Regions from separate parts of the Homo sapiens genome. Here region 1 is linked to region 2. A link means that fine-mapping ties the variant in region 2 to the expression of a gene that starts in the linked region. Tissue or cell type: whole blood. Region 2 holds a variant in brackets; the other region holds the start of a gene. All regions are shown on one strand. Distances are from middle to middle.

The links. PIP is the estimated chance that this variant, and not a neighbour inherited with it, causes the effect.
Region 1: TMEM164 starts here. The variant in region 2 is fine-mapped to the expression of TMEM164 in whole blood (TOPMed, PIP above 0.99).

Annotation. Positions count from the first base shown.
Region 1 is chrX:109,998,202-110,006,308 of GRCh38, forward strand. It overlaps TMEM164 (transmembrane protein 164), which reads left to right and starts at 4,913. Exons shown (of 7, transcript NM_032227.4): 1 at 4,913-4,977; 2 at 5,300-5,963. The coding sequence starts at 5,574. RefSeq lists a silencer at 4,158-5,017 and an enhancer at 5,120-5,775.
Region 2 is chrX:109,955,119-109,963,225 of GRCh38, forward strand. No RefSeq gene overlaps it. Among named protein-coding and RNA genes, the nearest start is that of TMEM164, 44 kb to the right of the region's middle. The variant C/T (reference allele first, on the strand shown) is at 4,683.

The DNA.
Region 1 (8,107 bases), 43 kb after region 2:
ACAAGTTCAGAGGAGGAAGAGAGCTCCAGGAGCTGAGGGAGGGGGATTGGGGGGAGTGAAATTTTACGTGGGCTTTGAAGGATGGTAGGATTGTTTATGCAAATGTGGGGGAGGGCGCTGAATTTGAGGTTGTGTGTGCGTGCACGTGCTTGGGTGTGTGTACACATGCAAATGCAGGGATGGGTAATAATAGGGAGCACTTAGTGAACACTCTCTATGCACCAGACACCACCTTATGGTCCCCAACATTCAGCTCATTTGACTGTGCATAACCTCATCAATTTGATAATAGTATCTTTCAATTAATAGATGAGGCAATTGAGGCACAGGGAGGTTGAGAGTAAATTGTCCAAGGTGACACAGCAAGTAAATAATATAAATGGGGTTAGATTCGAATCCATATCCTAAAAACACTTTGTTATTCTACTTGTAAACCCAGAATAAAATTTTAAGCCCCCTAAATGACTGAACAGACACACCCCCCAACACACACCCCCTACCTTGGCTAAGAGGACCTGGAAAGAAAACTTGAAAAACTAGCTCAGGCTGGCCAGATGCGGTGGCTCATGCCTATAATCCCAGCAGTTTGGGAGGCTGAGGAGGGCAGATTACCTGAGGTCAGGAGTTCAAGACCAGCCTGGCCAAAATGGTGGAACCCAGTCTCTACTAAAAATACAAAAATTAGCAAGGCATGGTGGCACATGCCAGTAGTCCCACCTACTCGGGAGGCTGAGGCAGGAGAATCACTTGAACCTCGGAGGCGGAGGTTGCAGTAAGCCGAGATTGCACCACTGCACTCCTGTCTAGGGGATAGAGTGAGACTCTGTCTCATGGAGGTTGGACTTTTTTTTTTTTTTTTTTTTTTGCTTAATGGGTATAGGAATTCTATTTGGGGTGATGAAAACTTTCAGAAATAGAGTAGTGATGGTTGCACATTGTGAATGTGATTAAAGTCATTAAATTGTACAATTAAAAATCGTTAAAACAACTAGGCGCAGTGGTTCACGCTTGTAATCCCAGCACTTTGGGAGGACGAGGTGGGTGGATCACTTCAGGCCAGGAGTTGGAGATCAGCCTGGCCAACATGGTGAAACACTGTTTCTACTGAAAATTCAAAAACTAGCTGGACATGGTGCATGCCTGTAATCCCAGCTACTTGGGAGGCTGAGACAGGAGAATTGCTTGTACCCAGGAGGCAGAGGTTGCAGTGAGCCAAGATGGCACCACTGCACTTCAGCCTGAGCAATAGAGCGAGACTCCATTTCAAAAAAAAGAAAAGAAAAAAATAGTTAAAACAACAAATTTTATATTTTACCACAATAAAAAATCATTAGAAACCTTGACAGAAACCATCACAAAATTTCCCATGTTCAAAAAACCTCAAGGACATTCTTCATTATACCCCCTCTCTTTGGAGTTTATGCACAATTGATCAGCATTCACATTAAAATAGAGATCATAAGACTGACAAAACAGACTCTTCGTGACAATAAAATACCAAATTCTAACCTGACCCTGGTATAGCACCACATGACAGAAAGCAGGCCCTGAAGGAAATCAAAGTATTTTACCCCAAAATACATTTCTTTGACATATGTTGAAATGGCCTTGCAAAGCTATCTCTTGTGGAGAAAATCTACATTCTATAGAGAATCTCCTTCCCTTTCCAGGTCCTTTCATGATCCAGGAGAGATTTAACTAAGAGTCGGACACGTTTTAAGGTCCAATAAGAGATTTTACATCTATTCTCTCTGAAGGTTGCTACCTGTAGGCTTCATCTACATAGCAAGAATCTTGGCTTCCACAATACCCGTTATCTTAAGCATTTCTTTCTGCTGACTTCAACTCTTTACTTTAAATAAAGCTTAACTTTTTCGACCAGTTGCTAGTCAGAAGTCTTTGAATCCACCTATGACTGTGAGCTTCCCCCAACCACCTGAGATGTCCCGCCTTTCCAGGCTGAGACCAATGTATACCTTACATGTATTGATTTATATCTTTGCCTGTAACTCCTGTCTCTCTAAAATGTATAAAACCAAGCTGTAATCCGACCACCTCGGGCACAGGATCTCAGGACCTTCTGAGGCTGTGTCACATGTCATGGTCCTCACATTTGGTGCAGAATAAATCTCAAATATTTTACAGAGTTTGGCTTTTTTCTTCAACATGCCTGTGAAAAAGGAATTTATGGCTCAATTTAGAAAACTGGCCTGGCTACAGTCATTATTAACCATAGTCATTGTTGCAAACTCGGGACAGTCTAGGCCAAATTCTCAACAGAAGCTCAGCATGGAAATTGGAGGGATTACTGAAGCCATTGGCTAAGTGCTATATCCTAATTCTTGCTTCCTTGAAGATAGCAACTTGAGGTTTTGGGATGCTGTATTCCATTGCTAGGTGCTCCCCAGCTTTGTCCTTAATGTTCCTTGGTTATGTTGCTGAGGATTTAACAAAACACTTAAGGAGAATGAACTAGTGAGCCTCTGAATCAAGCCTTGTTTGTTGTTGTTTATTAATTGGCACTTGTATTACTGGAAAGTGGTCTGGATGCAGACCCCAAGAGAGGGTTCTTGGACCTCTAGCAAGAATTCGGGGCAAGAAAGAATTTGGAGTAAAGTCAAAGCAAGTCTATTAAGAAAGTAAAGGAATAAAGAATGGCTACTCCATAGGCAGAGTAGCAGCTTGGGCTGCTCAACTGATAATTCTTATGGTTATTTCTTGATTATATGCTAAACAAGGGGTGGATTATTCATGAGTTTTCTGGGAAAGGGGTGGGCAATTCTCAGAACTGAGGGTTCCTCCCCCTTTCAGACCATATAGGGTAACTTCTGGACGCTGGTGGGAGTGACTTTTAGCATGCTAATGCGTTATAATTTGCATATAATGAGCAGTGGGGACGACCAGAGGTAACTGTCATCACCTTTTTGGTTTTAGTGGGGTTTGGCCGGCTTCTTTACTGCATCCTGTTTTATCAGCAAGGTCTTTGTGACCTATAATCTTGTGCCGACCTCCTATCTCATCCCGTGACTTGGAATGCCTAACTTTTTGGGAATGCAGCTCAGTAGGTCTCAGCGTCATTTTATCCAGGCCCTGTTCAAGATGGAGTCGCTCTGGTTCTAACGCCTCTGACACTTGGAGAACATCAGGCCTATGGTAGATGTTGTACAAAACTTGGAGTCAGACAAGGCTACCTGGCTGTACTTGTTCGGAAAACCAGACTTGGAAAAAACGGGAGGGCGATGGCCTGATAATACAGTAGATTGCATTTTATGTTTTGAGCCTGGCTTGCAGCCAACATCCAAAAGTGTTTCCTAGGCAAGGTGCCTAACTGTGTTTTTCTGGATATTCTTCTAACTCATCGTGAGTCTTCAATAAATATTAAATAAACATGAGGAAGGTCCTGAGAAGGTCCTTTTACTGACCCTTGTCTCAAGAAAAGCAAATAGCCGATCGGTAAAAAGCAGCAGGTAGGAAGAGGGGATTTTATTTCCGTCAGTTGCCCTTATCCAGGTTTTGGGCTTAGTGCTGCTCCTCCACACTCATATAGTCCTGGCTGGCTTTTCCACGCATAGGTTAGGAAGCAACTGCTCTGGGGAGGGGGAAGGGGGGAAGAGGGGGAGGGAAAGAGGTCACGGGAAGCCTCCCTTCCTCCCACTGGCCTACCATTGAAGGCCTGTCAGGAGAAAGGAGAGAAGTGGGAGAGGGAGAGGGTGTGGCAGGGGTGGTCTGTGTGGCAAGAGGTAGAGAGAAAATAGTGGATCAGAGCAGGAGGGGGAGGAGCAGGGAAATGAAGCTCCTGTCCTAGGCACTGAAGTGTGGAGTGGGGCTGTGGCTAGAAAGGGGAGAGAAGATGCCTTTCTGGCCTTGCATGAGTCGTGGCAGAAAGGAGGAATCGCGAAGAGGAGCCGGCCATACCCAGCACACACCCCGAAGCCAAGCTGCTCATTACTAGAAAGGCTTATTCCCCCACAAGAAGTTAGTGCGGGCCAGCTAAGTGCCTACTATGTGTGCAGTATAGAAAGAAGTGCCCTGGAGAACCAGGTCGCGGGAGGCGGAGCCAGTCAACAGGGCTTCACCGAGGGGGCGAATTCTGTACACGGTTGTGAAGGAGGGTGGCTGTGCACGCGTGCAGGCTCCGAGTGCAGAAGACGAGGCAGGCCAGGGAGGAGGCGGAAGGAGGCGGAGCCTGAGCCGGAGGAGGGAGGAGGAGGGAGGAGGAGGAGGGAGAGCCGAAGCCGCGGAGGGTGGGAGGTGTGAATGGTGGACGGGTGAGGGGAGTGCCAGAGGCAGAAAAGGGAAGGAGGCGAGGAGGAGTAGTCGTGGCCCGAGGGCGTGTGGTGGGGCGAGAGCTGAACTGGACGGGAGGAGGGAGGCAGTGGCGGTGGCAGCGGGGAGGGGGAGGAGAGAGGGAGGGGAAGAAGGAGGAAGCGAGCGCGGCTGCTGCAGGGGGAGGAAGACGGGGAGGAGGAGCCGTGCGCCGCGGCGGCGGCCGCCAGGGGAACCGAGCGCCCGGCGCGGAGAGCGCGGGAGCGGAGCAGTAGCCCGATCCGGGGCCGCGGGCCGAGCTGCCGGTGAGTGAAGCCCCGAGGGGCGCGGCGGCCGGTCCCCGGGGCTGGGCGGGAGGCGCGGGAGGTTGCGGCGCCGGGGAGGAGGGAGGGGGGCCGGCTTTAGTCCAGGGGCCGGCTTTAGTCCAGCCCCCGGCTGGCCCGGCCTCCCGCCTTCCCTCTGGCTTCCTCCCTCCGCTGCCTGCGCGAGGGGGGCAGGTCCCGGGCGGGCCGCGGGCTGGGGGTGGTGCTGCCCGGAGGGCGGGCGTCTAGGGCCGGAGGGTGGAGCTGGGGGTTCGGGGGTGTACCCGGGGGCGGGAGGCTGGACAAGGACGGCTCTAAATTGGCTGGAGGGGCCCGTCGGCGGCGAAGTTGCTAGCTGGGGGCAGAGACGGCCACGCGGTTGCAGGAGTAAGAGATCCCTCTGTGGCGAGTGCGTGAGACGAGGAGTCCGGCGTCCCTGCCATCCCCGTCGCCCTCCCCGCCTGCTCGGCCCCGCTAGCTCCTCTCCTTGCCTCCGCGTGTCCCCTAGCTCTGACCCCTTTTGGCTCCCGGTTCGCTGCCGCAGCACTGCCGGGTCTCCTTGGCCCCCGCCCTGACCCTTTCGGCCTCCGGCTTCCCCTGACCCCTGCTTGCTTCGCCACTGCCCCGTTCCCGTTTTCTTCCCTCGCTAGTTACCCCTCCCGCTTCCTAATTCCCGGTGCAATTGCCTCTTTGAGACCTCTTTTTTTTTTTTTTCCTCTCCTTCCTTTTAGATTGGCCAACGGCTCCTTTCAACCCTGCCTCGTTGGTGGCCACTGGAGAAGCGCGGGGGGCTCCCCCAGACAGCCGTGGGGACAAGTTAGAGCCAGCACTTTACCCCGGGCCTTGCGTGTAGCTTCCCCTCCCCTACTCTCGGTGCCCTGGTGTCTGGAGGGGGGTTGTGGGGGTGTGCCCGCCTTACATGGTCCACCACCCGGGCAACCCTCTGGGCTTGTGTTCCATCTCACTCTTGCTTCCTGTACTGTGGTCAAGGGGAACCACTGCATCATGTCCCGGTATAGCTACCAGAGTCTCCTGGACTGGCTCTATGGGGGCGTGGACCCCAGTTTTGCAGGCAATGGGGGCCCCGACTGTGCTGCCTTCCTCTCTTGGCAGCAGCGGCTGCTGGAAAGTGTGGTGGTCCTGACCCTGGCTCTGTTGGAGATCCTGGTGGCCCTGCGGCACATCCTGAGGCAGACGAAGGAGGACGGTAGGGGTAGCCCTGGCAGCCAGCCAGAGCAGGTGACCCAGCGGCCAGAGGAAGGCAAGGAGAGCCTGAGCAAGAATCTGCTCTTAGTAGCCCTGTGCCTGACCTTCGGGGTGGAGGTGGGCTTTAAGTTCGCCACCAAGACCGTCATCTACCTGCTCAACCCCTGTCACCTGGTCACCATGATGCATGTGAGTCTGTTGACTTTTTCCTGGGCATCCTAAGTGATAAGAGTCATTTATGTGCTCAGGACACTCCATAGTGTACAGCACCTCATCCCGGCGGGCAGGGGGACCTTTAAAAATGATTTTCCAACGAGTGGCTGCCTTTGTGCCGATTTCAGGTTTGGCTTTCTTTCACCTTTGCACAGTGCGTCAGCCCCACAGTGGAGGTGAGGAACCTTGTGCCTGAACCCTAGGAACGACTGGCACTCACCCTGGCTGCCCCTCCCTTCCAGCCCAGCCCAACCCTGCCGTGCCCTGGGCTTTCACAAGCAGGAATTCCAGCCCCAGCCAGGTGCCCTTTCTGAATCACATCAGTGGACCATGACCCAGCTCCCTTGCCTTCTGTGGTAGTTAATTTCCCAGGGGCCTGGTGACACTCTTTCCTGGAGGTGGTCGCATAAACTTTCTCATCTACACTGTGGTACTTTGGGGAAATACTTTTACAGGTTTCTCTTAATGACTCTTTCATTTGGGAGTGTATGCTCTTAGAGTGAGGTCTGCCTTTGCATTTTGAGGCATTGGAGCAGCACCAAGCTCCTACTAAATGAGTTCTGAAGCAGGTCCCCAGGCTGACATGTGTACTTTGGGCTGGTGATCACTATGGTGAGAGGGTATTTCTTTTTTTGCAAACCTCTCCATCCTATTACTGTCATTCTGTCTCCTATGGTCATAGTCCAAGGGTGCTTAGGAAGCTGATTTCTTTACCTCATCGACTTCCACCCATTAGCGGTGCTAAGGAAAACAAATGGGATTGAAAAGGCAAGTTGCCAGATACATAAAAATAATCTGGGTGAGGACCAAGAGTGAGACTGTCTGTATTCAGCCTGTGTGGAGAGATGTTCTAAAGCTATAAAATCATGGAGGAGGAGGAAGAGGAGACTGGGAGAGCAATCAGTCTTTTTTAGATTTCAGGCTGTGGAAAACCGGGTGTGTTTTATTCAGGGGCAGTTTTGAAACCTGTCATTAGCATCTTTACTGCCTTTATGTTTGTAGAAGGTTATTCTTTGGAGACTTGTGACAGCCTAGCTTGGGGCAGGAGGTTGAGATTATTATCTCCATTTTACAGGCCTGGAGGGGTTTAGGAATGGCAGGTCATTTGCTTGCAGCCAGAAGATGAATTAGTGCCTGGGTTAGAAAGCAAACTCATCCACCTTGAGGTTGCAAGCTGTCAACCCCAAAGTGAGGGTGGCAGTGGGTGGTGGGGCAGTCCTGTGGGAAGACTCAGGCAGATGAGCACCACACTGTCTACCCATGGCTTGGATACTTGCTTGCACTGTGTTCCTAGGAACTCATTTGATTGCAGGCTTCTGGATGTGGTGAATGACCCCAGCCCCTTCCCTTCTTGCAGATATGGTAAGAAGGTATGGATAACTTTGGAATAAAGTGGCTGTTTTTGATTGGGTGGCTGTAAGCATCGGGGCTGGAGTGGGCAGCATTTTTTAAGAGAGGGCTTCTTGGGAAGTGATGCCATTCACAGGAAGTCCAGGGCTGTCCCAGCTAGACCTTCTGTGTAAATTTGAGCCAGTCTTCTTTCTTTCTTTTTTTATGAATGGGCTTTTTGTTAATGATAGGAAACAACGCATCTCAGCCGATGCTGTGTGAGGCTGTCGGGACAGGAGTGCTTTTTTAGGATGGCAGGTGGTGAGGGTCAAAGGGTGCATCTTCTACAAAGTGGTCTTGAGGCCTCTGGCAATCACATATCTAGAAGGTCGACAAAGGACTAAATTCAGCCTGACTGGAGCTGCGGCTGATGTGATGACGTCAAGACTGGCAACACCATGGTTTTTAGAAGCAAGATTTTTAGAGGCTCTCAGAAGACTCTGGAGACCTAGTGCTAGCATTAATTCATTGTATGACTTTGGAGAAAGTACTCTTCCTGGGCCTCAGTTTGCCTACCTTGTGAAATGAGGCAGAGTTGCCCTCCTAGCTCTTGACAGTCTATGTGATTCTTGTCTCCATAAGTCGTAGATGGGTATGCAACAGAGAGCTATTCTGAAATGCTTTTGACCTCCTGTGTGGAAAAAAAGGAAGCTAGTTTCTTCTCTGTGGAAGTCAGGTGGCCAGTTCCCATTCATTGTTTTCTCCCTGTGTCTTCCCAGTAAAGTAAACTC
Region 2 (8,107 bases):
TCTTACCCTAGGTGCTGCCTGTCCTAGAACACTGTATGCAGGTTGCACTTTTGCAATGAGCTAGAGAAGGCCCAGAGCTATCTTGGAGACAAGGGCTGCTGTATTAGGGAATCCTAAACAGATTGCCTCTTTTCTGTGGGAAAAGTTGAAGAGGATACCATCAAATGTATGATTCAATATGTGTGGGAGACTGCATAGCATATTGGCTAAGGACTTGGGATTCTTTAGTCCAATAAATCAGGGTTTGAATCCTGGATCTTCTACTTTCTAGCTTTTTGATTTTGGGAATGTCACTTTACTGCTCTGAGCTTCAGTTTCCTCAACTTAAATGGGCATACTAAGACTTGGATTCTGAGGATTAAATGGGAATTGAGAGTAAATTCTTTAGCCGAAATCTGCAATGTAAGTGTACAATAAACTTTAGGACTTATAAACTAAGTCCTAAAATTAGAGAACTAGAGAAATGGTACTTCTTAGAGCATGTCTTAGTCAGTTTGGGCTATTACAACAAAGTGTTTTAGACTGGGTAGCTTATAAACAACAAAACATTTATTTCCCACAGTTTTGGATGCTGGAAACCTGAGATCAGGGTGCCATCATGGTTGGATTCTGGTGACGGCTCCCTTCTGGGTTGCAGACTTCTAACTCCTTGCATCCTCACATGGAGGAAAGAGGGTGACAGAGCTCTCTGATTTTTTTTATTTTGTTTTATTTTGTTTGTTTGTTTACTTGTTTTGAGACGGAGTCTCGCTCTGTCTCCCAGGCTGGAGTGCAATGGTGCAATCTCAGCTCATTGCAACCTCTGCCTCCCGGGTTCAAGCAATTCTGCCTCAGCCTCCTGAGTAGCTGGGATTACAGGCGTGTGCGACCACGCCCAGCTAATTTTTGTATTTTTGTCAGAGACGGGGTTTCACCATATTGGTCAGGCTGGTCTCGAACTCTGGATCTCACAATCCACCCTCCTCGGCCTTCCAAAGTGAGGGGGTTATAGGTGTGAGCCACCACACCCAGCCTCTGGGGTCTTTTTAATAAGGGCACTAATTCCATCATGAAAACTTCACCCTCATGACCTAATTACCTCCCAAAGGCCCTGTCTCTTAATACCATCATGTTGGGGGGTAGAATTTCGACCTGTGAATTTTGAGGAGGCGCAAGAGATGATTCAGTCCTTAACAGAATGTGAAGGAGGCAATGCTAGCAGATATAAAAGGAAAACTTAATGTACCCTACACAAAGTACCAGGCATATAAACCACAATAACAGCAAGGGCTAACACATGTTGAATACTGTGAGGCAGACAATATTCCAAATAGGTTACATGTAATAGCTCATTCACCCTTTGAGGGGAATACTACCAATACCGTCATCCCCACCTGACAGACAGAGAAGGCTTTGGCAAAAGAGGTTAAGTAACTTGGCCAAGGTTACACAACTTGTATGTGGAGCTGGGAGTCAAACCCAGGAAATCTGGCAACAGTCTATGCACTTAACAATTCTGTTATTCTCACAAGAAATTTTACAGGTTGAGATTAAAAATAGCTTCAGGAAGAGATTGTGCTATGGGCTGAATGTTTGTGTCCCTCCAACCCCAAATTCATATGTTTAAATCCTACCCTCCAAGGTGATGGTACTTGGAGGTGGGGCCTTTGGGGTGATTAGGTTATTGGGATCAGTGTCCTTACAAAAGGAACACCAGACTGGGTGCAGTGGCTCATACCTGTAATCTCAGCACTTTAGGAGGCCAAGGCAGGCGGATCAGTTGATCCCAGGAGTTCAAGACCAGCCTGGGCAACATGACAAAACCCCGTCTCTACAAAATTCAAAAATTAGCTGGGGGTGGTGGCACGCACCTGTAGTCCCAGCTACTCAGGAGGCTGAGGTGGATGGATGGCTTCAGCCCGGGAGGCAGAGGTTGCAGTGAGCTGAGAACATGCCACTATACCCCAGCTTGGGCACAGAGCCAGACTCTGTCTCAAAAAAAAAAAAAAAAAAAAAAAAGAGTGAGAGAGAGAGAGAGAGAGACAGAGAGACCCAGAGAGCTAGCTAGCCTCTTCTACCACATGAGGGTCCATTGAAAAGTTTCTGTCAATGAACCAGAAAGCAGGCCCTCACCAGACACCAAATGGGCCAGTGCCTTGTTCTTTGACTTCCAACCCTCAGAACTATGAGAAATTTCTGTTGTTTATAAGCTACCCGGTCTATGGTATTTTGTTATAGCAGCTGAAAGACTAAGACAGATTAGATTAAAATCTCAATGATTTTTCCCTAAACTAAATGAAAGGTAAAATGAGATATTTAGGATATTTGGGACATCCTTGCTCTTTGAGGGTGATGTCAATGTCGTGTACCTCACACATGCCCCTCCTCATGCCCCCATTCACTTGTTTATGTCCATCTTTTATCTTGGTTTGAAGCCACTTTCCCAGAGGAGCTTTTGCTGATCCTCCAGTGTAGGTTACACCCTCCCCGACCCATCTCCCCGCCCTCATACTTCTCACAATAATAAGGTATATAATTATTTGTTTACTAGCTCCCATACTAGACAGAACACTTTAGTGGATCTGTTTCGCATATTATTGTATTCCCATCCCCTAGCACAGAGGTCATCAACCTATGGCCTGTGGGCCAAATCTAGCCTAACTTATATTTGTAATAAATTTGTATTGGCATACAGCCACACCAATTCATTTACATATAGTCTATGACTGCTTTCTCACTACAATAGTGGAACTGAGTAGTTGAAAGAGAGATCATATGGCCCAAAAGGCCTAAAAACATATTTACTATGTAGTTCTCTACAGAAAAAGTTTGCCAACCCCTGGCTAACGAATAGATATACAATACAGATTTGTTTAATGAATGAACATACTTATTTATTTAATAAACATTTACCTAGCACTTACTATTGTCAGACACTATTCCAAGTGCCTTGCAAATATGAATTCATTTTTTCCTCATAACAACTCAACAACTCAATAAGATAGGTGGTGTTATTATTCCCATGTTAGAGAGGAAGAAACTGGGAAACAGAGGTTCAGTATCCTCACCAAGATCACACAGTTTGTAAGTAACTGAGCTGGGATTCAAAACCCAGGCATTTGGGCTCCAGAGCCCATGCTATGTACTCAGCATCAATGGACTATGGCTCAGACCTAGTTTGAGTTTTTGTTTTGTTTTGTTTTGGTTTGGTTTGGTTTTTTGTTTGTTTTGTTTTGTTTTGTTTTGGTTTGGTTTTTTGTTTGTTTTGTTTTGTTTTGTTTTGTTTTTTGTTTTTTGGTGTGCTAATGAAAGAACTGCTGAGTGGCTTCATAAGGGGAAGGATGTGGTCAAAGAAGCAAAAGGAGATAAAGTGGCCTAACTCCACATAGCCTTTAGAACTTAGTTGATGCCAAGGAGATGCTAAAACAAATACAAATTAGCAAAGCATCATTAGGATCTCACCATAGCTAATGGAACCAAGGAAGTTTTCTCCAAAAATGAGCTGAAGTTTTTATTATCTCCCTACCTGTGACTGGTTAACACTCTCATTAAAGCTTTCAATTCACTCTGAGGCTAGATAAGTTTGTTTTACTCTCTTACATGGCCAAACGCTATACTTCTCCCCTGCCACAACTAATTGTCTTCCAATGCATCCCACGGTGGAACAAGGCACTTGGAATAGTGTCTGTTTGGTGCCAGTTCATCCCCCTCCAAAAAAAATAAAAAGCCCATAACTATAGTTGTTGTATTAGACAATTCTTCTTCCTGTCCCTGCACTGCCTGCGCTGTATTCCAGCTGCCAATCAGGAGGATCAGCAAATGCCATCCAAAGTAGCATCTTGAGCTATAATGAGTCCTTGCTGCTGACTGGGCTCCTTTGTAGTATGCTGGAAGTAGTCAACTTGTTTGTAAGGCTTGGGAGACCTTGTACATGAGTGTGAAGGGTCAACAGAATCAAGATAGCTGAGACCTAAAGGTCTGAGAGAGACCAAGAGAGTCTATTCTCTTCTTGGTAAGATAAGTAGGATCCCAGGATACTACATCCATACTGGGGGCCTGGGCTAGGAATCTGGGTTGAGCTTGGGGTTAGATCTGCCTGTGGTGCTCCAGAGCTTGAACTCAAAGGTGATCTGACAGCCAGCGATCAGGGGAGAAGTTGCTAATGAAATTCAATAGACAATCCAACTGAAGGGTCAATTCCAATGGGCACACTAAAGGGAGAGAATCTGGGCTCTGCAAAGCTAGTAAGAAAACGTGGCACAGCAGAAGAGAGCAAGAGGAGTCAGGACAGTGAGTCAGAGGTAGAGCCAATGGAGATTCCCTGAGCTCTTGGGATAGAGTTGCAGAAACTTTTTATTGGGTGACTTGGCCTTGCCTTTGAGTAGGGATGACCTAGCAACAGGCTGCCAGAATTTAAATTCCAACTGCCATCCTGGGCCACCAAGGAGTCCTGCTTATTAACTATGGGATCTGTGGCTAGCCACTCACCCTACTTATGCTTCAGTTGCCACATCTGTAAAAGGGAGATAGCAGTGTAGTACTTACCCTGTTGGGTTGACAAAATAAGATAACATTGTAAGTACTTAGTGCACATAAGCAGTGTATATTGCCTAATATTTTTAAAGGACATCCAATTGGCTCAAAGGACAAGTGTAAGCCAGTTTCAGACAAAACCTGCATATTGCCCACATCCTGACTCAAAA[C/T]CCACAAGCAGGTCTCCCAAGTAGGGGGCAGGGGCAGTGCTAGTGCTGCTGTTCCTCTGGTTGGTTCTGCAAAGGCTACCACTTCACAGGCCAGTTGGCAGCAGGAGTTCAGGGCAAGTGAAACCACTCTTTGATCTCAACTTTTGGAGGGGGTCTTTTCTCATTCCCAACAATCTCTATTCCTCCAAGTGAGCAGGTCCTTCTAGCCTGATCCTGTGAAAGACAAAAGCTGCTTACATAGCCATAAGATATGGTTTGCATCTGCGTCCCCACCAAATCTCTTGTCAAATAGTAATCCCCAGTGTTGGAGGTGGGGCCTGGTGAGAGGCACTGGATTTGGTGCCCCCTCCAAAAGTTGAGATCAAAGAGTGGTTTCACTGCTGAGCAGATGCCAGCATCATTCTTCCTGTACAGCCTGTGAAACCATGGGCCAATGAAACATTTTTTCATTATAAATTAGCCAGTCTCCGATATTTCTTCATAGCAATGCAACAACAGCCTAATATACCATACAAACAGAAGTGCTCGAGACTTCATGTTTTCCACAGTCGAGAACTGTCAAGATTTCCCAAAGAAGGCTTGGTCACATCACTGGGAGATGTGGGAAGGTAGAAGGGTAACGTATGGATTTGGAAGCTTTATAATTACAGTGACATGGGGATGCTTGGTAGAGCAATTGCTAAAGAGAAGGCCCTGTCTTACATTACAGGCATCTTTGCCATCCTTTCTGTTTTGCAAAGTGTATAGGCCAGTGTTTCTCAAAGTATATTTCACCTATTATTCTTCTGGATTCCCAAGTTCTGACCCATTAAACTCAGCCATCTGCATTTTTAACTAGCTCCCACGTAGATTCTGTTATTCTATTTTATAATTTAATTTTTGAACAGATGATGTGTTCACATGGCACAACACTTTAAAAATATAAATGTATAGCATGGAAGTCTCTCTCCTATTCCTGTCCTCAGCTGCCTGGTTCCCACCTTACCCTACCCCCACCTGCCATAAAAATCCAGGTAACAACTGTTATTTATTTCTTATGAATCCTTTCAGAGTTTCTTTATCAAATATAAGCAAATGAAGATTATATATAGTACATCTATATATAATATAGAGTCTGTAACACATATGATCTATAAAATATATTTTATATTATATACAATCTATTATATACATAATATAGAGTATAGATTATATAATCTATATGATCTATATAATTAGTATAATAGTCTATAATCTATATATAATATATAGATTATATAAATATATATATCACTTCTTCCCCATAAGAATTAGCATACTTTACATACTATTCTGCACCTTTAAAAAATAATGTAATTTAAAGATCTTTCCGTATCTGTCATAGAGAACTTCCTTACTAGTTTTCACAGCTGTATAGCATTCCATTATATGGATGTACCAGACCTTATTTAACCAGTTACTTTTTGATGGGCACATGGGTTGTTTCCACTATTCCACTAATACAATCAATTGACATACTGAATTACCTTGTATACACATCATTTTGCAGATATAGGATACATTTCCAAATAGCAAGTTACTTCTCTAATTGATTCTGGTGCCCACTGGAACTTAGGAACCACTGGCTTAGGGGTTGCTGATGTGATAGGTCTAATTTACATTGAATGAAGCCTTTATATTAAGACTCACAGAATGGCAGAGCTGGAGAAGCCCTTAGATATCTTCTTCCTCATTTTACAGGTGAGAAAATTGATTCTATATCAGGGAAGCGATTTGCTCAAGGTTACACAGCATGTTGGTAGTAGAGCTGAAACTGGAACCCAGGTCTCCTTGCTCCTAGGGCAGTGTTCTGCTGCCTGTCATTATCATCAAGAAATAAATGTGGAGTGCTCTGTGCAGTATACTGTAATCTCTATCTGGGGCAAATAGGGGATGCATTGGAAAGGTAATGCAATGTAGTCTGTGCTAAATGCCAGATCTCTGTGGACATGGAATAGCAGACTTTCATAAGACATCAGAATTAAACAGGTAAACTGTTCCATAAACTGTTTTGAGCTCTTGACTTCCTTATACAGAATGAAGAAAGGCCAGTGGTTCCCTATGCATCTAATTTAATGTAAATTCTGAGAAGAGCAAAACTTTTGTGTCTCTGTGCAGCTTCTTTAATGGGTTTGTTGGAGAAGGGAAAGTGTAGCTATTGACTTACTACTGAAGACCAAACTCCTAAAGAAGGTGACTTGGAGTTGGTAAATCTCAGTGGGGCCCATTTCTTATTCTGTAGATCCATTTCATGATGTAGAAAAAGCTTCCTAGTGCCGGGCGCAGTGGCTCACGCCTGTAATCCCAGCACTTTGGGAGGCCAAGGAGGGTGGATCACGAGGTCAGGAGTTCAAGACCAGCCTGGCCAAGATGGCGAAACCCCATCTCTAGTAAAAATATAAAAATTAGCCAGGTGTGGTGGCAGGCACCTGTAATCACAGCTACTCAGGAGGCTGAGACAGAGAATTGCTTAAACCGGGGAGGCGGAGGTTGCAGTGAGCCAAGATGGGGCCACTGCACTCCAGCTTGGGTGACAGAGCGAGACTCTGTCTAAAGAAAAAAAAGAAAAAAAAAAGAAAAAAGAAAAAGAAAAGAAAAAGCTTCCTAGAGCAAACCAAAGTCTTCCAGAAAAAATAAGTGGTGATTGAAAGCCCCTCACCCCCAGAATCTCTTCCCCAACATTAGAGATTTATCTTTTTCAGCTATGGCCTCCCTGAGATGCTTTCTGTCTCTGTCACATTTTATTTATTTATGTATTTATTTATTTTAGAGACAGAATCTTGCGCTGCTGCCCAGGCTGGAGTGCATTGGTGTGATCATAGCTCACGGTAACCACTCCTAGGCTCAAGCAACGCTCCTGCCTCAGCCTCCTGCGTAGGTAGGTAGGTAGGACTACAGACATGCACGACCACGCCCTGCCAATATATATATATATTTTTTTTTTGTAGTGATGGGGTCTCGTTGCCCAGGCTGGTCTCAAACTGTCACCTTTTATTCATTGTGGAGGGAAGGTAGAATGGTGTTAAAGTAACTCTCATCAATCTCAAAGCTTTCCAAATCCTTTTATAGCAACTTCAACCTTGTTTTCAGTATCTCAGCCAAATAAAGGGGAAGTTTTTTGTTTTGTTTTTTTAACTAGGTTAATCATTTTACGGGGTATTGTGCAAACAGGACGATGGTTTGTTTGTTATGCTTATTTCTGATCTCAGAAGGAGCAAATATCCTAGCTGAAGAGTTCTAGACAGGTACCAAGGGAGCCTGGGATTTTGAGCTGCAAGGGCTGTGTGCAGCAGTCAGAGGAGATGCATCCTTTATGCCATTATCAGCCACTCTACAGTTCTAATTTTGATGAGAACAAGACAATTGTTAAGCGAAGTGCTCCTTACTTAACAGTTTAATCAACCATA